2 separate regions of the Homo sapiens genome follow, and region 1 is linked to region 2. The links come from fine-mapping of genetic effects on gene expression. A gene starts in region 2. The other region holds a variant in brackets. All regions are shown on one strand. Distances are between the middles of the regions. Region 1 overlaps LINC01641 (long intergenic non-protein coding RNA 1641). Region 2 holds the start of CDC42BPA (CDC42 binding protein kinase alpha).

The links.
Region 1: its variant is fine-mapped to the expression of CDC42BPA in whole blood (TOPMed, PIP above 0.99).

What each region holds. Positions count from the first base shown.
Region 1 is chr1:227,413,692-227,416,603 of GRCh38, forward strand. All of the region lies in intron 3 of LINC01641 (long intergenic non-protein coding RNA 1641), which reads left to right. It also overlaps the pseudogene NUCKS1P1. Among named protein-coding and RNA genes, the nearest start is that of LINC01641, 22 kb to the left of the region's middle. The variant C/T (reference allele first, on the strand shown) is at 1,231.
Region 2 is chr1:227,316,851-227,319,762 of GRCh38, forward strand. CDC42BPA (CDC42 binding protein kinase alpha) reads right to left here and starts at 1,642. Exons shown (of 37, transcript NM_001394014.1): 1 at 155-1,642. The coding sequence starts at 332. It overlaps LOC124904531 (a long non-coding RNA gene), which reads left to right and starts at 1,742. Exons shown (of 2, transcript XR_007066911.1): 1 at 1,742-2,148; 2 at 2,264-2,912.

The DNA.
Region 1 (2,912 bases), 97 kb after region 2:
GCTTGTAATCCCAGTACTTTGGGAGGCTGAGGCAGGTGGATCACCTGAGGTCAGGAGTTCAAGACCAGCCTGGCCAACATGGTGAAACCCTGTCTCTACTAAAAATACAAAAATTAGGCAGGTGTGGTGGCTCATGCCTGTAATCCCAGCTATTCAGGAGGCTGAGGCAGGAGAATCACTTGAACCAGGAGGCAGAAGTTGCAGGGAGCCAAGATGGTGCTACTGCACTCCACCCTGGGCAACAGAGTGAGGCTCCGTCTCAAAAGAAATTAAATAAATAAATAAAGTGAGAGATGTGCAACTCTTTTACTTGAACACTTAAGAGGCCACTGTAGGGTTATTAATTGACCTAATTTTAATACTGTTGTATCTCATGGAATAGGGAGGACCCTGAGGAGAGGGAGAGAAATGGGGGAACAGCCAGTCAGTGGGAAGAGCCGGTTGGTGGAGCAATCAGAGCACACACATTTATTGATCAAGTTCATCTTCTTATGTGGGTGCTGCCCATGACTCCCCAAAACAATTACAACAGTAACATTGGAGATCACTGATCACAGATCAGTATAACAGAAATAATAATGATGAAAAAGTTTGAAATATTGTGAGAATTACAGAAACGTGACACAGAGACCATGAAATGAGCACATGCTGTTAGAAAAATGTCAAAGATAGGCTGGGGCATGGTGGCTCATACCTGTCACCCCAGCACTTTGGGAGGCCAAGGTGAGAGAATCACTTGAGCCCAGGAGTTCAAGACAGTCTGGGCAACATAGTGACAGCCTCATCTCTTAAAAAAAAAAAAAAAAGTTAAACCAGGTATGCCTTTAATTGCAGAGCATTCCCAATCACTCAGCCCACCACTGCTCCTTTAAGAAGGCTCTTTGTGATGTTCTGTGGTTCTAGCCCTGCACATTCCCAGTTTCCTCTTGCATGATTCTACCTTCCACTGAAACAGAGCAAGATCTGCTTAAGATCCTATAAAAATGACTTTGGCATGTGCCCTTTGCCTGGGAACAGCTTTTTCAGTTGCTGCTGCTGCTGTGTAATATGTTAGGTTACATGGACTACCATTTTTTGTTAAAGAGAATGACTTCCAAGTTCAGTAGGTGCTTCTTGAAAATATAGTTCCCCGTGATGCAATAATAATTGATTCTGTTATTTCCTATTCTTGTTCTTATGTATGTGACATATGACATGTAACTGAGACACAGTTCCTATATTTAATATTTG[C/T]TGTTTGTTCCACAATCTTTTCATAGATGGGATTAGGTTGAACATTACCCTGTTCTATCTGAATTATATGTAATATGCTATAAATTTGAATAATCCACGGTAAGGTGATTTTAAGCTTAACTCTGCCCCAGCAGGTGATAATTATTTTATTAGAGCATTCTGTATCTAGTCACTCCGCATAGTGTTGACTCTTGGTTTGAAGTCACACCTCATGCCTGTGGTTCAGCATGCATCTTTGGGCCTCAATGTCTTAGAAAAACTTAGCTTAGTGGACTGGATTTACAGACCTGGGGAGGACATGGAAATTTCAAGTTTCTCATCCAGAATCTTCTTCCAACTTGCTGTGTGGCCTTCCACGCGTCATTTCATACTCGCTCGATCATTTCTTCATTTCAGCATGGAAACAGAGCCCATTAGCTTCTCAAGGGCATTGTAAGAAAGGGGAGAGCAGTGGTCAAAAAGGAAACAAACTGAAAAATATCAAGATCCCTTCAATAGTTCTGACCTCTAGTGAAAAAAGGAACAACGTGGTACCGGAAAACCCAGCATGTATATAGCCAAAACCAAAGACTTGTTGTTGTAAAGAAAAGGGAACAATGTCTGATTTTAACATTCACATATTCCAAACCACAGTCTTCCAGGTCTCTCTCCCGCAGCCAAGGCTGATGGTAGCAGCCAGGTCTAGAGGAAAGTTTCCAGAAAGCAGATTTTGGCAAAGGTTGCCTTTAAACCTGCAGAGAATACAATTCCAGTTTTTGGGTTTTTTTTTCTTAAGCACATTTTCATTCCTTTTTGCCACAGAATTTCATGGACTATGTTTATCTTTCCTTTTCAGGTCATGGTATATAGACTTTTCACAGTCAGACGTGAGGAGTAGACATATTTCTTGAGTGTTTTTTTCTTTCTTTCCTTACAAAATTCTTTCAACTTGGAGGTGGAGCCAAATTCTAAGATTATATTTTCAGAGAATCATTTTTCTTATGTGATCATTAAATTACTTCAGAGAAAGAATGAGATATTAAAGTCCACTCTCTGACTGCTTTGAGAAGAGGCTCACATGTGCCAGGTGAAAGGAATAATTATTGATTTTAATTCTATTCCCTGGACAAATGGCCCCTGTGGCCCAGAGTCCTGGCACCCGGAGATGGCAGTGAGCCCTGGGTCTGTTTAGGATAGTTTTGTAAACAACAACAACAACAAAAAAGCCACTGCAAGTGCACTGGTTTTAGAGGAATGTCCAAGAAAATTGCCCTCCTTCTCCTCACAACATGTCATTACAGAAAAATAGAAGTCCCTGCATTCCAATCTGATTTTTATTTAACTCTGCAAGCCTGTAAATTTTGCCATGAGGTAAGGGGCTGATTCAGAGCTCCAGAATCCTTTTGGTGCCACAGACACTATTTCAAAATGGATATGCTTTTGGGTTTCTTAGTGTTATTCTGCTAGGGTCATGGAATAAATGGGGCTCTGTCTGAGGAGAACTCCCAGTCCTGGTAAACAAGAACCAGGATGCCTGGTGGTCAAAGTAGCTGCCTTGCGTTTTAAAGGTTAGGAGTTCAAATCTTGTGGGTTTGAGCTTGGGTTAAAGTATCCACGTATCTAGGTTGAAGAAGCAATAACGTCGCACAATGGAATCTGGCTTACCCATATCTAATTTCTGGCTACAATTAATTAAATACATA
Region 2 (2,912 bases):
CCAAAAACTAGCGGAAAATCTTGAATAACTAGTGTCTGTTTTTTTATTGTATTTTTTCTTTGAACGGAGTAGAGTTTACTCATAACTCTCTATACCAATTAAATCATAATGACCAGCTAAAGATTAACAGTTTCTTTAAAAATTACAAACTTACCCCATTCTAGGTATTCGAGAATGTTCTTCTCTCTTCTCAATGGAGAATTATTGCATTCATCATAAAGGCAGATGAGTATATCCAGTAATGTCTCCACACTGAAGCACTGCCCATTGGTCTGAGCGGGCCCGTCCAAAATAAACTGCTCCAACTGCCTCAAACGCACTTCTCCAGACATGTTTGCTTCGATTTCTGCTGGTTTTCCTTTAAATTATTATGATGACTTTTACTATTATCTGAACCTAAATTTTAAAAGGTATGGTTTTAAAAATAAACCACTTGTTATTCAAACAACTGTCATGCAATGCTGGTGCTGAATTAAACATCCAACACACCAGTAACCTCACTTAACTGAAGCGTCTTCAATTTCACCCATATACATATATTTTGAGGGTAAATTACCATAAAATATATACTTAATGCATTTTTAAAAGAATACAATTAAGTCGTATATTTAAATAAAATAATAATTAAAAGTACAACGAACTAGAGAGTCAACACTTCTTTAAAAAAAAAAAAAAAAACTCTTCTCCTTCATTCAAAATTCAACTCGTGCAACGTAATCCTGAAACGAATCCGGTTGCATCATTAATGAATAAAGTCCGATTTGCATCAGCAATTCACTTCCCGGGAAGAAGAAAAACAGAAAAGGGAGGAAAAAAACAGAATGCATAGAAGGGGGAGGGAAAACCAAAAATGTTGCTGCAAATCCTCCCAACCACCACTTGGATAATGCATCAGCGGCAATTTCTCCAGCGGGAAAGGGAGGGGGCGAGGTCCCTGAAGCAGCCCCTCGGCTCGGAGCACGCCAAGTCTTGCCCGGAGGCGGCTTTTCGTTTCTCCTCCCGAGGTCCTTCTTTCTTTAAGGCTTTGCAGTCAGTCCTATTTTCAACGGATTCCGGTGAAAACTCTTCATTTTCCTCCCGGCTTCACCCTAGGGCCTGACCGGCGGCGCGGCCGGGGGTGGAAGGCGGGCTGCGGGCGGCACTGGCACCGGGCTCCGGAGAAGCGGCTACTTGGCCGCCCGAGCCCACTCCATGTCGGTGGTCGCTCGTGGGCCGAGCCGCGCCGCGCCGCGCCGGGCAGAGAGCCCGGTCTCCCCGACACCCGCACCGGGCCGCCGCGCCGGAGGCTCCCGACGCCCCAGGCGGGGGGGTGCTTCTCTGAATTCAAAGGACACAAGCAGCAGCAGCTGCGGCGGCGGCGCGGGCGGCTCTGGCAGCTACTTCTCCCCCTTCTTCACACCCCTGGGCTAAGGGCATCTTTCCACAGCGAGGAGGGAGGCGGCCCGGCGCAGGAGGAGGGGTCGCTTCCGCGGCTGAGGAGACTAGAGGCTGCGGCAGCCCGGCTCCCAACCACTCCCTTCCTCTCCCTTCCAGCCCTCCCCCGCCTTCCCTCTCCTCTCGCGCTCGCGCCCTGGGCTCAGCGAGGCTCCTCCAGTCCCGCCGCACAGAGGCGGAGGCTTGCGGACGAGTCTGGATCCAATATGGCGGCCTGGCCCCCCGGCCCCGGCACACGCGCGCGCACACGCCCTCCACTCCCCGCCCCCGCCCTGCCCGAGCCTCAGCCCCAGCCGGCGGCCAAGCCGGGCGGGGTCCGGCCGGCGCGCCCAGCGGAGGCCCCCAAGGGGGCGCGGGCTCGGGGCCCGAGTGGCTGCGCCAGCCCGAGGGGAGGGGTGTGGACTGCCTAGGCGGCGAGGCTGCGGCTGCCGCAGCGTGGAATGCGGAGCTGCGGGAGGGCTGAGGGAGGCCCGGGCGGCGGTGGCGGAGCATATGGAGGCGGGATGACCGGGCCGCGCCGGGAGCTGCGGCGGGACTGGGCGCAGGCTGGGAACTGCGCCACCGCCGCGCCGTGGCCCCGGCTCCCCGAGGCTTCTGGTGCAGATCGCGAAGGGGGGCTCCTGCTCGTCCTCGGAGACATCACCTGTCTGGCGCGTTTGTTAAGGGCGCCCAGAAGCAGAGGGCTTTAGGCTTCCGACAGAGCTGGAGGAGACGGTGCCTTTCAGCCCCTTACCTGCTCCCCACCGGCCCCCCAGATTCGGTTCGCGCACACTCCAGAGTAATCGTTTCTTAGGTGTCTAATTACAGCACTTCGTGTGTCATTTCCCAGGACAAAAACAATGACAGACTTGTCCGAGCTACCATCGAAGTCTTGGGTCTGCACGCAAAGGATGGAATCCCCCATCTCCATTCCCAAAAGTTTCCCTACGGGAGCCTGGTGTTGTCTCCTCCGGAACTGTCCTCGCGGCTGCCTGTTTTTCCCTAGCCATGGTTACTGCCTGCGGGGGATTCAGCCTGTGAAGGCAGTCAAGGCAGTTCACCACTGTCATCAAACCTACACCCCTGTGTGCATGCGCACACACACTTGTAACCCAGTGGCACAATGCAGGAATTAGGGAAGCAAAGGCAAATCGCTGAATAGCTAGGGCACCTGATCCCTGTAGGGCCCTTCCAGGTTTTTGTGAATCTCGGTTTTAGGAGAGCTCCCTTTATAAAATTCTCATGGAAGATGCCACATTTAAATTAACACCACAAAACTAGGTCATTGCAGTTCTGTTACTTTCTCTCAAAATTGCCATCTCCTTTATGGTCGTTCTCTAAAATACAATTATTTTATATTCCTTCCCCACACCTGTGAGGCGGTTGTGTTTCTATGTTCATGTCCACAATTGCATCTTACATCTTGATAATATGGAAGCTGAGGAAGAATTAGAAATGAGGGCCTAGACGTAAAATGAAGGCTAACAGAAGTCGATTCA